Regions from separate parts of the Homo sapiens genome. Here region 2 is linked to region 1. Evidence: fine-mapped expression QTL. Tissue or cell type: whole blood. Region 1 holds a variant in brackets; the other region holds the start of a gene. All regions are shown on one strand. Distances are from middle to middle.

Region 1 (8,259 bases):
ACTAAATACCTCTGAATACACTCTAAAATGGTTAAATTAACATTATGTGAATTTTACCCGAATAAATAAACCAACTAATCAGCCTTGGCTCTTCCTTGGCTTCTCTCCCACTCCCATACATCCCACCTGTCAGTCAATCCCATCAGCTTTGCACTCAAAATATATACAAATATACCCAGAATCTAGGTTGGGTGCGGTGGCTCACACCTGTAATCCCAACATTTTAGGAGGCTGAGGCGGGCGGATCACCTGAGGTCAGGAGTTGGAGACCAGCCTGGCCAAGGTGGTGAAACCCTGTCTCTACTAAAAATACAAAAATTAGCAGAGCATGGTGGCAAGCGCCTATAATCCCAGATACTTGGGAGCCTGAGGCAAGAGAACTGCTTGAACTCGGGAGGCGAAGGTTGCAGTGAGCCGAGATCTTGCACTCCAGCCTGGGTGACAGAGCAAGACTCCGTCTCAAAAATAAATAAATAAAAATTTAAAAATTAAAAAAAAAAGACACACACACACACACACACACAATTTGTCACTTACCACCACCTCGCTGCCTCCATGCCAGTCTTAGCCACTGTCACCTCCCAACAGAGGACAGCAGGAGCCTGCTGACCAGCCTCCCAGTCCAGTTCCGACCCTCAGAGGCCTGCGTTCCTCGAGGCAGCCAGGGGGATCCTGTTAAATCGAAAGTCAGGTCCCATCTCCCGCCCTGCCCCTGCTTTAAACCTCCCCAAGCAGCATCGCATCGTGGTCAAAGCCAAAGTCCTTCCTACAACCCACCAGGCCACTGTGTTCCCCCACCTTGTCCCCACTGTGATCCTGGGTTCTCTCTCTCTCTCTGGCCACCCACTGGCCTCCTGCTGCCCCCACATACCTGCTACCCCCAGCTCTTTGTTGGATCTCCTGTCCTGACATCTGTGGGCTTACTGCTCACTTCCTCATGCCTTTAGGCCTCCTTGGCTGGTCCTTCCTGAAGTTTCAGCTCCATCCCAACACTCCCACCCCTTCCTTGATGTAGTCTTGCCTAGCATATGGCATATTTTATTCCTTAGGCTTGTATCTATGGACTGACTCCTACCCCAAAATATAAGCTCCATGAGGGTGGGACTTTTCCCTTTTTTGTTCCTTGCTATGTCCTCATTGTGTGGGACAGTGCCCAGCATAGAGAACATGCCTAAGAAATATCTGACAAATGAATGGATTCCAATTCACCTAAGCCCATGTATTTGTATTTGCTTTGCAGAGGTGGGTGTGCATGTGTGCGTGTGTGTACACATGCATGTGTCAGACAGGCATCCATCCTATCCAGGAGATAGGAAACCAAGAATGCAAAGACAACTCAGCAGATCTGCTGGCATGGAGGCGAGGCTGCATGGAAGGATCTGGATTGGATAGGAGTGTCCCATTCAGGACATGTGTCACTCAAAACCACACAACTCAGACTTGGGGAATATTCTATGCCAGTCACATCTGTTTACAACACGTGTGGCATCTCCTGTGGACGGAGTTGACAGTCTCATCCTGAGATAGGCAGAGCCTGGCGTGGAAGTGAGAGCCTTCATCTGGGATGAGACAGCAGGAGGCAGGGAGGGGACACACTGGGGGACATCACGTGGGGCCAGGCAGTGTCCACCCAGCTCTGGCACAGCCTGAGAGTCATCACTTCCTCAGTTTTCACACCCTGGGCACCTCCACCTCGCCTGCCTCCCCCGACCCCGGCCCCATGGCCAGACCTTTCTTCCACATAATTCCCAGGAGTGCTATATGCATGAACCAAGCTAAGGTGTCAATCTCGTTTCAGAACCACAGCACGGCTCCCCATAAAAGTCATCTTTATGGACAGATATTTCATGGCGGCAGCTTGAGAAGGCTCACGTTTCTTAGGCAGCTGGTGCAGAGCCAGGAGAGCTAATCATGAGATCTTCCAGTCCCAGGACGTGGGCTGCAGCTGGCGGCTGTGGTCGTCTTATATCAAACTCTCAAGAGTCACAGGGCAGCAGCATTGGCCCCCTCCCAAGTCATTCCAGATGGGATTTAAGGTGGCTTAATGAGCATTCATAAAATACAGCAAGAGAACATAAACTGAAAAGGGTGTGCAAGAAGAAATCAAATGGGAACTACATGAAATGAGCCAGAGACAGGAGGGAGGGGGAAGAAGAGGGAGGGGGAAGAACAGGCGGGAGGGGGATGAACAGGGAGGGGCCCCCTAAGCCACTGGAAAGTGTGGCAAGACTTCCCGGAGCCGGACAGAGCAGATTCTTGAGGGGTGCGCAGGAGTCTCGTAGGCCAGGATGGAGAGGAAGGGCCTGTAGGCAGAAGACTGGTGTGTGCAAAGGAACCAGAGAGAGAAGGAGGCGGGGAGGGGAGAGGGGGTGCCGGGAGGAGGGAGAGGAAGCTCAGTAGTTGTGGGGGATAGCGAGGGGGATTGGGGAATGAACTGTTTCCCGCAAATGCCTCAGCCATAGTTGAAAGGATTCCCACTCCCTTCCCCACTCACAAAGTCCTGGTGCCCTTGGCCCGGCTGCGCAGGCCCTCATTCCCTGAGCTCCCAAGAGGTGCAGTGATTTATCCGATGCGAAGCGCGAAGCTCGGGAGTCCGACTGCACCCGGAGGTGGTGGGGGCGGGGGGACGGAGGGGCGGAGGGGCAAGAGTACTACAAGAAAAGGCCGGGGCCTGCTCTCTGCTCTCTCCTCTCTCTGGACCTGCCTGAGCCCCAGGGGCACGGTCTGCACCATCTGCCTGTGAACAGGAGCGCTTAATTCAGAGTGGCCGGCAGAGACCCTGGGTCCGATGATCCAGAAGTCTGACATCGAGCTTCTGCTCATTAGCCGCAACCCTCCCCTGGGTCCTGGAATCTGTTCTCAGGTGACCGTGGAGGAGGCGATGCTGAGTGATCAACACCTCGGATCTCCAGCTGTCGGTGCAATGACCAAGAAGGCCTTGGTGAATGTTAAAGAAACAATTATTCCATGACATTGGTAAAGCATGGCCGAGCCAACTTTATCCAGGACCGTGGAGATTGATACAGGGACCCCCACAATAAGATCTTGCGGTAGGGGAGAGAGATTAGGCTCCACTCTGAATATAGCACAGGCAAGTAGGAATTTATGGCCAAGGAGTGTGGGGGTCAGTGGATGGAAAATTACCAAGGGGTAGGGGAGATTCTGCTTAACCCGACCTAACAGGATTCTTGCTGACACAGGCCAGGGTTCTTTCGCTAAAACTGGATTTTTTTTTTTTTTTTTTTGAGACGGAATCTCACTCTGTGGCCCAGGCTGAAGTGCAGGGGCATGATCTCAGCTCACTGCAACCTCCATCTCCCGGGTTCAAGTGATTCTCCTGCCTCAGCCTCCCAAGTAGCTGGGATTACAGGCATGCACCACCACGCCCAGCCAACTTTTGTATTTTTTTGGTGGAGACAGGGTTTCACCATGTTGCAAGCTGGTCTCGAACTTCTGACCTCAAGTGATCCGCCCACCTCAGCCTCTTAGAGTGCTGGGATTACAGGCGTGAGCCACCGCGCCTGGCCTAGAACTGCATTTTACAAGGAAGTGCACAGATGGGCCTAGCAGAAGATTCAGAAGCCTGACTAAAGTTTGGCCGAGCAAAGAATCTTTATCTGTAACTCTCATTCAATGACCAAGACGCCCTTTAGGAGCTCTTGGAAGAGCCCTCATGATGGGGTGAGTGTCCTTATATGGAGAGATCGGGGCCAGGCGAGGTGGCTCACACCTGTAATCCCAACACTTTGGGAGGCCATGGTGGGAGAATCACTTCAGCCCAGGAGTTCGAGACCAGCCTGGGCAACATGGCAAGACCCTAACTCTACAAAAAAATTTTTAAATTAGCCTGGTGTGGTGGTGTGCACCTAGCTATTTGGAGGCTGAGGAGGGAGGCTCACTTGAGGCTGGGAGGTTGAGGCAGCAGTGAGCCGTGATCTTGCCACCACTGCACTCCAGCCTGGGCTGTTCTGTTGAACGAGATCCTATCTCAAAAAACAAAAACAAACCTTGGAAGGACTGGCTTTTGGGGCTCTGAGGACTATGAGGAAGGATCAGTGTTTCTGGCCACCTACAGGTCTTGAGCCTGTGCAGGATGCGACTGGCTTTTATCGCAATTCCAGCTGATATTGAAGGGTGTGCCACAGCAGATGGAGTGACAGAAAAACAAAGAATTTAGGAAAACACACACAGACATACACACACACACACACAGAGACACACAGAAACACAGACATACGCAGGCACACAGGCACACCCATACACACATAGACACAGACACACACACACATACACAGACACACAGACATATACACAGACACACACAGACATATACACAGACACACACAGACATGAACACAGACACACACACACAGACACAGAGACACACACATTCACACACACACAGAGACAGACACACACAGACACACACACTCCCACACATAGACTCACACACACAGACACACACAGGGGAAGGGTTTCATCTTAGGATGAGTCAAGGCTTGTCCAGGAGCTCACACTCCACAAGCGCAGAAGGCCCCTGAGCTGAGACCCAGTCCAAGCTCGGTGCGTGGGTCTTTTGTGGGGCGCGAGGCCCTGGGAGTCCACTGCGGAATTTTGCTCATTAATTTGCTTTCCCTCCTCACTCAATTTCTAAGTCAGCTTAGCAAACCTGGAGTTTAAATTGCAAAAGCCCCAAGGGTTCAACTCTGACCTTTGGCAGGGACGGGATTTACCCTGAAGCCCATGGGCCCTTCTCCTGAGCCGGCCCTTCCAGAGGCCAGGAATTCCGGGTGGAGCTAGGTTTTGTGACCCCTGAGCCTAATAGAATGGAGGTGGGGAGCTCTTTAGAAAAAGGATGCCAGGCCAGATG[C/A]AGTGGCCCACGCCTGTAATCCCAACACTTTGGGAGGCCGAGGCAGCCAGATCACCTGAGGTCGGGAGTTCGGGACCAGCATGGCCAACATGGAGAAACCCTGTCTCTACTAAAAATACAAAATTAGCCAGGTGTGGTGGCGCATGCCTGTTAATCCCAGCTACTCGGGAAGCTGAGGCAGGAGAAACGCTTGAACCCAAGAGATGGAGGTTGTGGTGAGCTGAGATCGCACCATTGCACTCCAGCCTGGGCAACAAGAGCAAAACTCCATCTCAAAAAAAAAAAAAAGAATTTTAGGGGGACACAGAGATTCAGTCCATAGAGGTGTGACAACACATACGAAATATTGCAACCAGAGATGCTCAGCCAAGCCCTAATGTCCCAAGTCTTATTAGGGGTCAGTCATAGAGGCATGTGGCACCCACGTGACTGACCTTAACTATTTCATCTCCAGCCCTAGCTTAAGGCAGACTGATACAGCCTGGCCCAGGGCCCCAGGCGAAAAAAAACAGGCATTCGCCATAAATCACATTGCTGGCATAAACTGTCTCAGGTGGCCCAAGGCCCCAGGTGAAAAAAACACTCCTGTTAGGCAGGATATTCCAAGGGCGCAGAGCTTATCTCCCAGGGGCCAGGCAAGGGCCAGTCCTCTCTTTGGAATGTGCAGGGTTTGGGCAGCCCAGGCCTGTTGAGTTAACCCCTTACTCCACAGGGCCCCTGCTGTATACATGGCATTACACAGAGTTAGATTCCAAAGCAGGAGGCAAAAATCACGTGGAATCAGTGACCCTCGAAAAATCCCTCTGGAAGATGCTATTTTGGAGTCCTCATCTCTCAGGAAGTCCGGCACAGCTGGGCTTCCCTCCAGGGCTGCAGCTGGCTCGCACTGAGGCTGCACTATGTGGAAAACGTGGTCTGCAAATCCTCCACTGGCAGTCAGCTGTGACACGCTGGCCCTGGGGTCATGCTAGGGAGCTGCATCCCAGAGGGGCCTCTCCTGCCCACTCCAGGAGGCCCATTGAGGGACCTGCCTCCAACAGGAGCTCAGCAATATGTAAATGATTCTTTCTCCTTTTTCCACCAGCTACATTTAATACAATCTGCAAAAGCTAAATGTGTATTTGATTCAACTCCCTTCCGGGGAATGAGTCTTCTTCTTGGGGTGAAGTCAAGAATAATGATCACAGTGAATACTCAGTGGGTGCTTGCTTTGTGACGGGGACATTTCTCAGCGTTCTGTGGGTTAGCCCATCAAATCCTCACACCCTGCCTCTGAGATAGGGTAATCTATTATATGCATTTTGCGATGAGGAGACTGAGACATGAAGACCTTAAATAATGTGCCCAGGCCAGGTGTGGTGGCTCACACCTGTAATCCCAGCACTATGGGAGGCCAAGGCAGGAGGGTCACTTGAACCTAGGAGTTCAAGATCAGCCTGGGCAACATGCTGAGACTCCTTGTCTACAAAAAAAAAAAAAAAAAAAAAAAAATTAGCTGACCGCAGTGGGAGTCTACAAAAAAAAAAATTAGCTGACCGTGGTGGTGTGCCCCTATATTTCCAGCTACTTGGGAAGCTGAGGTGGGAGAATCACTTGAGCCCAGGAGGTCAAGGCTGCAGTGAGCTATGATGATGCTGCTGCACTCTAGCCTGGGCGACAGAGCAAAACCCTGTCTCAAAAAAAAAGTAAATAAATAAATAATGTGCCCAAGGTCCCACAGCTAGTTGGTGGAAGGGGCCACAGTTTTAACCTAGGCAGTCCGGCTCTGGACTCTGCCTCTTAACCGCTATCTTCTTTTGTCTCTGAAAGGCAAATTAGTGTAATTATTGTAAACCCGAAAGCTAAGAAGGAGATGTGAATGCATTCCTGCAGGACGCTGTCACCAGCTACTAGCTGTGCATACAGACTCAAGCAGAAATGGAATTGGCTCAAAAACAAATGTTACAGCCAGAACAGGAGCTGGGAAAAAGTGACTGAAAAATGGCCCGGCGCGGTGGCTCACACCTGTAATCCCAGCACTTTGGGAGGCTGAGGTGGGAGGATCACCTGAGGTCAGGAGTTTGATACCAGCCTGGCCAACATGGTGAAACCCTGTCTCTACTAAAAATACAAAAATTAGCTGGGCGTGGTGGCAGGCGCCTGTAATCCCAGCTACTCGGGAGGCTGAGGCACGAGAGTCACTTGAACCCAGGAGGTGGAGGTTGCAGTGAGCCCAGATCACGCCACTGCACTCCAGCCTGGGCGACAGAGTGAGACTTTGTCTCAAAAAGAAAAAAAAAAAAAGAAGAAGAAGAAAGTGACTGAAAAATTAAGGAAGTCATCCTGGCTGAACTGGAGGAAGAGGGGAATTGCCTTAGGAGAAGAGTTGGGCCCTTAGAGGTCAGGGGAGGCAGGTAGGAATGGGGGCAAGGGAAATTTTGCCATCCCACCCTCCTAAGTGCCCTGGCAGAAGGAACTAGGAGAAGGAAGCCTTCTTTTATTGTCACTGGATTGGGGAGGTGACTTGGAGATGAGAAATCTAACAGGGGTAACTAGAACACCTCCAGAGTCAGCTGGAATGGCCCACCCGGGAGATTCCAGGACAGGTGCTCCTCAAAAGCCTCCCTCCTCCTGAAGCTCTCATTGTGGGGGGGCCTCCTTTAAGGAGCTGGAGACCCCAGGAGTGGTTACAGAAAACTTGGCAGTTGTGAGAAGAGTCCAGAAAGATAATCACAGAACAGGCTGGACCCTGAATTTCACGGTGACCCTGTGATGTTAGGTGGGGAAGCAGGAGTGGTCTGAGCCCTGAGGCGATGTGCCTGGTCCATCCTAGGAGCTGGGGGTTCAGAGCCAAGCAGCACTCTGGGTGCAGTCACGACTGGCTTAGATGTTGGGCAGGGAGAAGGTGTTGGGCTGAGGATGGGGAGGGCTTTTTGGAACAACAGGTACTTTCGGCAAAATCAGACTCTAATTATTTTATCTCTCTCATTATGGGGAATCCACAAGGCAGAATCTGCAATGATCCAGGTCTATATCAGTCATGGTCCCATCAGGAGACAGAAACCATGTGTTGTGTTAACAGAGGAAATTTAATATAAAAAATTATTAACTAGGCATTGAAAAACTAAAAATGCAAAAAAGAGAACTCTAAGGGGAGAACCTTCCAGGAAGCAACACACACCCCCAGGGCTGGAGGAATGAAGAAGGGACTGGAATTATGAAAACATGGAAGGCTAGAATGCAGACCTCTAAGGAGCAGACAGGGTCAGCAGGTGCTGTGATGTCTCCAGAGGGGTTTGAAGGGGCTGGTGTGCCTGCTGGAAAAACTGCAAACTGGATCCAGCAGCTACTGCAGGAAGGAACTGCCGCTGCCACAGTGAAGAAGCTGTGTGAGGGTGATGCCCACAGGA
Region 2 (8,000 bases), 42 kb before region 1:
TGCTGCCCCAGGCAGCTCCCAGCCAGTGCCTACCTGCAGCAGGGGTAGGAGACCCTGGCATTCCTTCCCAACGTGGGACTCCTCTTTGAGCAATCTTGGTTCCAGAGCCCCTGCTGGGCTGGCCAGACTCCCTCCAAGCTGCACTGCAGTCCAAGGCTTTTCCTACCCAATCCTCCTTCCTTCCTCATCTCCTCTCACAGGTGTCAGACCCTCCTCAGAGCCTGAAAGTCCCCAGCCCCCTCCTGCCCCCTCCTTTACCTGTCACAGGTACTACCTCCATAAATCCCCTGCTTTTCTAACTCCATCCACCCAATTCCCACAGGACCAGAGCTGGCCATGCCCTCTTCCCAGTGTACGGCTGCTGGAGAAAATGGCTAAGTTCCCTGTTATGTGTTGGATCATGCCTCCACCATTCCCCCGGTACTGGGGAAATCCTGATCCCCAGGACCGTGAATGAGACCTTATTTGGAAATAGAGTCTTTGCAGATGATCAAGCTAAGATGAGGTTATTAGGATAGGCCCTAATTCATTACGACTGTGTCCTTATAAAAAGGGGAAATTGGAGGTGGGAGGATCCCTTGAGGCCAGGAGTTTGAGACCAGCCTGGGCAACACAGCAAGACCCCATCTCTAAAAATTTCTAAAATTAGGCTGTCGTGGTGGTGCACAACTATAGTCCAGCTATTCAGCAGGCTGAGACGGGAGGATCGCTTGAGCCCAGGAAGTCGAGGCTGCAGTAAGCCATGATCGTGCCACTGCACTCCATCCTGGAGTGTAGACAGAGTGAGACCCTGTCTCAAAAAACAAAAAATGGGTGGGGCAAGGAGAGAATTTGGACGCAGAGACAAGTAAGCACATGGGCAGAACATCACGGGAAGATGAAGGCAGAGGTCGGGGTGATGCATCTCTAAACCAGGGAGCGCCTAAGACTGCCAGGGAGCTAGAAGAGAGGCAGCGCAGACACCCCTCACGGCCCTCGGAGGGAGCCAGCCCTGCTGATGCCTCAATTTTGGACTTCCAGTCTCCAGAACTGTGGGAGACAATGCATTTTTTTTTTTTTTTTTGAGACAGAGCCTCGGTCTGTCGCCCAGGCTGGAGTGCAGTGGCACGATCTTGGCTCACCACAAGATCTGCCTTCCAGGTTCACACCATTCTCCTGCCTCAGCCTCCTGAGTAGCTGGTACTGCAGGCGCCCACCACCACGCCTGGCTAATTTTTTTTTTTTTTGTATTTTTAGTAGAGACGGGGTTTCACCGTGTTAGCCAGGATGGTCTCGATCTCCTGACCTTGTGATCCGCCCACCTTGGCCTCCCAAAGTGCTGGATTACAGGCGTGAGCCACCGTGCCTGGCCAGGACAATGCATTTCTATTGTTTAAGCCACCCAGTCTGGGGCAGGTTTTTACAGCAGCCCCAGGAAACCGATACAGTCCTGGGGGATGGTATGGCTGCGGGGTCCTTCCTCTTGGGACCTGCCCCTCTTCCACTGATGGATTCTGAGATTGAGAACAAGTTCAGATTTGGAAACAGCAGGGGATCATTCCTTTCTGTTGGGGCATCCGGCCTTGGACTTCTGCTCATCGATTCTTGGTTGCTTTTCATTCTATTTGTTGAACAAAATCCTTGCCGGCTGCCTAGACACCTTCCCCCTGGAAATGCTATGTCCTATGAGCCATCTCCATAGGCTGGGCAGGGCAGGCTCCCCCGCGGCTGTCCCAACCCTGCTGTCCATTCTGATCCTCTCACCCCCTTGCTTGTGACAGACAGTTAAGTGCTGCCCTTTGACCTGTGCTACTCGGGAATCCAGTTGTCCCTGTGGCTATGGGAGAGCTCAGATCCATGGCAGCCCACCCCTGCCAGGCCCGGGCAACCCTCACAGGGCTGCTCAGCAACGCCAATGTCTCCTCGACAGCTCAGGCCTTATCATTTGGGTAAAGAGCTGGAACCTTCCAAAGAACATGGCCAGCTGGTGGGTTTTCCACCCTGTTTCGTGGTGAACAGGTCTGTGCAAATCTACCTGCAAAGGCCGAGGGAGCTGAGAGGCTGAAGAAAGAGGCTGACAAATCCAGTTTCTTGTAAAGAAATATTTAATAGGGACTTAGGAGCAGAAGCGATGTTCCGGGCTGCCACAAAATGGTAGATCCCCACATCTGCCCTGCAGAAAGTACTTTTATGTAGCAAGCTTTTAGGGTAAAACATGTGCAGGTGGCCATATCTCCGATTTTAATGCAAAACTCATAGCCACTTGGGGAGGGGGTTAGCTAAGCATCTTTACAAAGGGTTATGTATGGTACAGGCATTGTTTAAAGAGCTTACTGCAGAGCAGCTTGGTATATGGGGGTGAAACATTCATCATCATATGGCGGTTTTAAGATGGCATCACTCTTGTCACACTGTTTTCCTGTACAACCTACAATAGAAGAGCCATTCTGGCGTGTCCACTTCTCTGAGACTTTGCATACCTTCCTCCAGGGCTGTTCTGACATCTCCACTTCATCGCCTATGCACTATCACTTCTTCCAAGCTTTCAAGAACTGCCTCAAGTGCTGGGCACTGTGGCTCACACCTGTAATCCCAGCACTTTGGGAGGCCAAGGTGGACAGATCACTTGAGGTCAAGAGTTCGAGACCAGCCTGGCCAACATGGCAAAATCCCATCTCCACTAAAAAAAAAAAAAACAATACATTATCTGGGCATGGTGGTGCATGCCTGTAATCCCAGGTACTCGGGAGGCTGAGACAGGAGGATCGCTTGAACCTGGGAAGTGGAGGTTGCAGAGCCAAGATCGCACCACTGTACTCCAGCCTGGGCGACAGAGAGAAATTCTGTCTCAAAAAAAAAGAACCCTCCCAAGCAACATATTAGAATCTTCCCAGGGCCTTTTTAGGGGTTAGGGAGTCTTTCTGTACTAATTAACTCTCCAGTCTCCAGCTACTATGCAGCCTCCCTTGATCTAGAACCTTCAGAGTCCACATCTAGGAACATTCTCTAGACCCGGCTGGTCCCTGCTGGCTTGCTCCCACCACTCCTCTGCTTGTTAATCCCTCTTGGTCCCTGGCATGCAAAGCACATCCTTGGTCAGGTCATGCTGAGATATGATCCAGCTTTGAGCCTGGTGGTCAGGAGGGGAGGTGGGGACAGATGCTGGAGAGAGGAACTCCTTATCTTGTAAGGTCCCTTCCCTTAGTTTCTGCATGGTCTTTAAGCAAAAGAGGACCTCTGTCTTCCAACAGAGGCAATGGGTCACTTCTGCAGGCCAGGAGGTACAGGAGAATCTGGGGGTTCAATGTCTCAAGAGTGTCTCCTCAGATAGTCCATCTCAGATATCAGGGACCCCACCCTTCCCTTTGGGGCCCTGACTTTGGAGAAGGGACTTCCCTGGGCTGGAAATTTGGCCTTCTCTGGAGTCCTGCACCTTGTCTTCTGCCCTCTGACCCCTGGCTATAGAAGAGAAGCATTTCGTTAAATTCTGCCAAGGAATCCTGACTTTGCTTTAAATTGGTGATGCGTGGCCCTGAACTTGTCATTTTCCCTCTTCTAAGTGTCAGTAGTATTCAGTGACAGCCTCCCCACTCCACGTCCTTCTCACGGCTATTTTCCCATCTGTCTCTCAACATCAGTGATATTAAACGAGCCGGGCATCCCCGTCCACCTGAGTCCTGTCCCAGGTGACCACAGGCGGAGGCCTGAGCAGCTGCTCTGCCACCTCGTGCCAGGGGCCTCCGCAACGGGCTCCAGTCACCAGGGGCCAGCGGGGCATCCTCCTGCAGCATCCCGTCCTTGGGGCCAGCTTCCTGGGGCCCCTCCTGCTGTTCCCTGCCTTCAGCTGTCTGAAAACAGAGCCCAAGACAGGGATTTACTAGGGGAGGGCTCATCCTGGGACAAGCCGCCCAGGATGTGAGGGCAGAGGGGCGGGGAAGGAGAAAGGACTCGGTAAAGGCGTGGTCCCAGGGTAAATACAGCTCTGGCAGATATGCAGGGGGCCCTGGGGCAGAGGTATCGCCATCTAGAGGCAGGCGAGGGAACAGTCTTTTGTACAGTTAGCCGTGGGCTGTGGGCGTCGCCTGAACGTACCAGGTATTGTGGCTCCATTGGCTGAGGATGCTTCTCCAGCGAAGGAGGCAGGGAGCCGGGGAAGTGGGGTGGGGTCGCGACACCGACAGCAGCTGCCAGACCAGCCATGCTGCGCTCAGCTCCCTCAGGCTGTCACTCTTAATCATCATGTCACTATCTCTGGGGCGTGTCAGTCACCATCAACGACGTGTCCCCCAAGCTGCAGAGGACGCAAATCCAGCTCTCCAAGAGGCTCTGTTGGCCCTCTCCACATGGGCTTGAGGTCAGGGGTGGGGGCACGTTCGGACCGCCCTCCTGCCTCTCTGAAGAAGATCCTCCAAGTCCCGGCTCCAGCTCTCCGGCCTCTTTGGCAGCTGGGCGGGTGGCCATCCAGGAGGCCCGTTCTCCATGCCCAGTTTGGCAAGGCTCCTTGGGACGCCGGGCTCGCTGCCCCTGTTTTCTTAAAGCTTCGGCCCAAAGGGACCCAGAGTCTGAGGTTAACACTCCGTCATCCCAGCGTGAGCGGCGCCTGACTCCAGCTCTCGACTCCCCCACCTCCTATCCCCTGCGCCGGGCTCACCCTGCACTCCCACCTGCAAATCAGCAGAGCAGAGGCCAGCGCTCCCGACGTCCAGCACCACCCCAAGCGAGGCAGGGGGAGCTGAGTGGCCGGGAGCGCCATCTAGTGGGTGCCAGGGGCGAGTCCCCGAAAGAGACTGGAGAGCCACGACTCGGGCAGGGCAGGATGGTGTCCCAGGGAGGGCCGGGGCCCAGGCGCTGGACAGCAGAGGACATAAAGGGAGAGGCATGGGAGAGCGAGGAGCCAGGGTGCTTCCGGGGCGCATGAGCCCCACCCCAGCCTGCCCCTGCCCTCGTAACCAGATGACTCGGCTCAGGCAGGACACACCACGTCCAGTCTCTGTCCCCTCTCCAGACTCTTGGGAAAGTGTCACTTAAAATCCATTTGGGTCTGGTGTTTGCTTTATTCCAAGGAAAGGGGTAAGGAAAAATTCAGAAAAGGGGCGAGGGTCTCCCCTCTCCACAGTGGCAGTCAGGGGAATAGTGACATTCACCCCCTCCCCCAACCTGGTCTTGAACGTGGCAGGGAAGAGAACTGAGCCACCTGTCACCCAGAGGGGGAGGGGGAAGGTCAGAACTCCAGCCTTCCCACAGCAGACACGCCTGCGGGGCAGGAAGCAGGCAGGCTCCACGCAGTGTAGACATGTGCACTCACACGGATGTTAACAGTCTGGAAGAAACTGACCTGGCTGTGAATAGAGGCTCTCTCATGGGGAAGGGGCAGAAGATGGAGCTTTCACTTCTCCATTTATACACTTCTCCAAAATGTGGTGGGACCATGAGGAAACTGCACTTTCAGTTTTGATCTCTTTTTGTATTTTTTCAGTTAAAATGCAATTGGGAACAATGGGGTGTTAAGTGCCTCAGTGTGGAAGGCTGCGGCATCACCATTGAAATGCTGTATCAGACCTGGATTGGATCCACCCTCGACTCAGGGCTGTGCAAACTGGGACCCAGATCCCGCGCTGTGGGAACGGAGCCCTGCTCCGCTGTTTACATGTTGTCTCTGGCTGCGGCCTCGCTGTGACAGCAGAGTTGAGGAATTGCCACAGAGACTGTTATAGCCCACAAAGCCCAAAATATTTACTCGCTGGCTCTTTATGGAAAAAGTTTGCCAACTATCAAATTACAAGAAATACAGGGACTGGGGAGCCTGCTCAACAAAGCTAAGGGGACGTGACCAGCAAAATCCAGACTGCAGGCAACCATAGGACAAAGCGCCAGTTTCTTCAATACGTAATTTGCAACAGCAACCTGCTTACTAGAGGCCAGGAAGGGGAGGGGGAAAGGAGGGGATGAAGAAAGGTTGATGAGTGGGTACAAATACACACTTACATAGACGAAATAACATCTGGTGTTCAATAGATCAGTAGGGTGACATTAATCGATTGTACACTTCAAAATTGCTAGAAAAGAATAATCCTAATGTTCCTGGCACAAGGAAAAGATAAATATTTAAGATGATGGACATCCCAATTACCCTGATTTGATTATAGGAATGTATCCAATTATCATGCACATCCCGAAACTAGATACAGCTAGTGTATTTCAACTTTTATAAAGAAAAGAAAAAAACGGGCGGGGTGCAGTGGCTCGCGCCTGTAATCCCAGCATTTTGGGAGGCTGAGGTGGGCAGATCACTTGAGGTCAGGAGTTCCAGACCTGCCTGGCCAACATGGTGAAACCCCTTCTGTACTAAAAATACAAAAATTAGCCAGATGTGGTGGTGTGCACCTGTAATCCCAGCTGCTCCGGAGGCTGAGGCAGGAGAATCGCTTGAACCCGGGAGGCAGAGGTTGCAGTGAGCAAGACTCCATCTGAAAAGAAAAGAAAAGAAATGAAAAGAAAAGACAGAGGGGGCCCATAGATTTAAAAGAGGCTGAGCAGTGACAGATAATAGAAGTGTGGATGGTAAGAAAATAAAGTCTCATTTTTCATGGTAGCAAGTGAGATCTCAAATCCGAGATCAGAAAGTGAAGAAAATCAGGAATTAAGAGTAGAAGCCATTTCACTTAGAAATGAAGGTTTAAGAAAAAGATGAGGCCGGGCGCAGTGGCTCACGCCTGTTATCCCAGCACTTTGGGAGGCCGGGGCAGGTGGATCACCTGAGGTTGGGAATTCAAGACCAGTCTGACCAACATGGTGAAATTCCATCTCTACTAAAAATACAAAAATTAGCCGGGCGTGGTGGTGTATGCCTGTAGTCCCAGCTACTCAGGAGGCTGAGGCAGGAGAATCACCTGAACTCGGCAGGCGGAGGTTGCAGTGAGCCAAGATCGCACCATTGCACTCCATCCTGGGCAACAAAAGCAAAACTCCATCTCGAAAAAAAAAAGAAGAAAGAAAGAAAAAGATGAAACATCTACTCAAAAACTGAAAGTGGGTGCCCCTAATGAGGGAGTTTTGGGAATCAGAGAAATGGAGCAGAGAACTCTTTTTTATTTATATAATTTTAAGCCTAGTAGTAGTGTTTGAATTTTTTAATTTTGTATACGTTTAAACAAAATATTTAAATATTAATATTTGAATCCAATAACAACTTAAGTTTTTTAACTTAATTAAATATATTTATAATCTTGGATTAAGGAAAGCCTTTTTAAACATGACCTGAGGCTGGGTACTTTGGAAGGCCAAGGTGGGCGGATCACTTGAGGTCATAAGTCGAGACCAGCCTGGCCAACCAACGTGGTGAAACCCCATCTCTATTAAAAATACAAAAATTAGCCAGATGTAGTGGTGGTCGTCTGTAATCCCACCTACTCAGGAGGCTGAGGCAGGAGAATCACTTCAACCCAGGAGGCAGTGAGCTGTGATTGTACCACTGCACTCCAGCCTAGGCGAAAAAGCAAGACTCTGTCTCAAAATAAATAAATAAATAAAAATAAATAAATAAACCTGACCTGAAAACCAGAAACTAAATGGTTGATCTATGCGGCTGCATGAGAATCTCAAACTTCTCTCTGAGAAAGCTATTATATATTATATATATAATATATATAACTATACAACTATACACACACACACACACACACACACACACACATATATATATATGTATGGTTGAAAGACTACTGACAACTGGAAAAAAGATTTGTAACAGATAATACAGATGGAGGGTTAATATGATAGTTTTTTCTCGCAAGCAACAGAAACTGACCTTAGCTGATTTAAGCAGAAAAGGGATGAGTATCAAGTACCACCACAGACTTTCTGGGTGGGCTGGAGAACCAGGCTTGCAGGCCTCCCAGACAGGAACAGAAACTGTGCTCCAGCTGGTCAAGTAAAGACACCATGGCTACCTTTTTACTGGGTCCTGCGCACTGCCACGGATCAGCTGCCATTGCTTTCACTCTCTCTGGAATCAAGTCTGC

What was found. PIP is the estimated chance that this variant, and not a neighbour inherited with it, causes the effect.
Region 2: LINC02724 starts here. The variant in region 1 is fine-mapped to the expression of LINC02724 in whole blood (INTERVAL, PIP above 0.99).

The regions. Positions count from the first base shown.
Region 1 is chr11:64,403,899-64,412,157 of GRCh38, reverse strand. It overlaps LOC105369341 (a long non-coding RNA gene), which reads left to right. Exons shown (of 4, transcript XR_001748069.2): 4 at 1,241-2,080. Among named protein-coding and RNA genes, the nearest start is that of LINC02723, 12 kb to the right of the region's middle. RefSeq lists an enhancer at 4,434-5,065. The variant C/A (reference allele first, on the strand shown) is at 4,871.
Region 2 is chr11:64,445,724-64,453,723 of GRCh38, reverse strand. It overlaps LINC02724 (long intergenic non-protein coding RNA 2724), which reads right to left and starts at 4,667. Exons shown (of 2, transcript NR_073177.1): 1 at 4,072-4,667; 2 at 2,067-3,827. RefSeq lists a silencer at 3,947-4,142, a cis regulatory region at 3,920-4,189 and an enhancer at 4,079-4,328.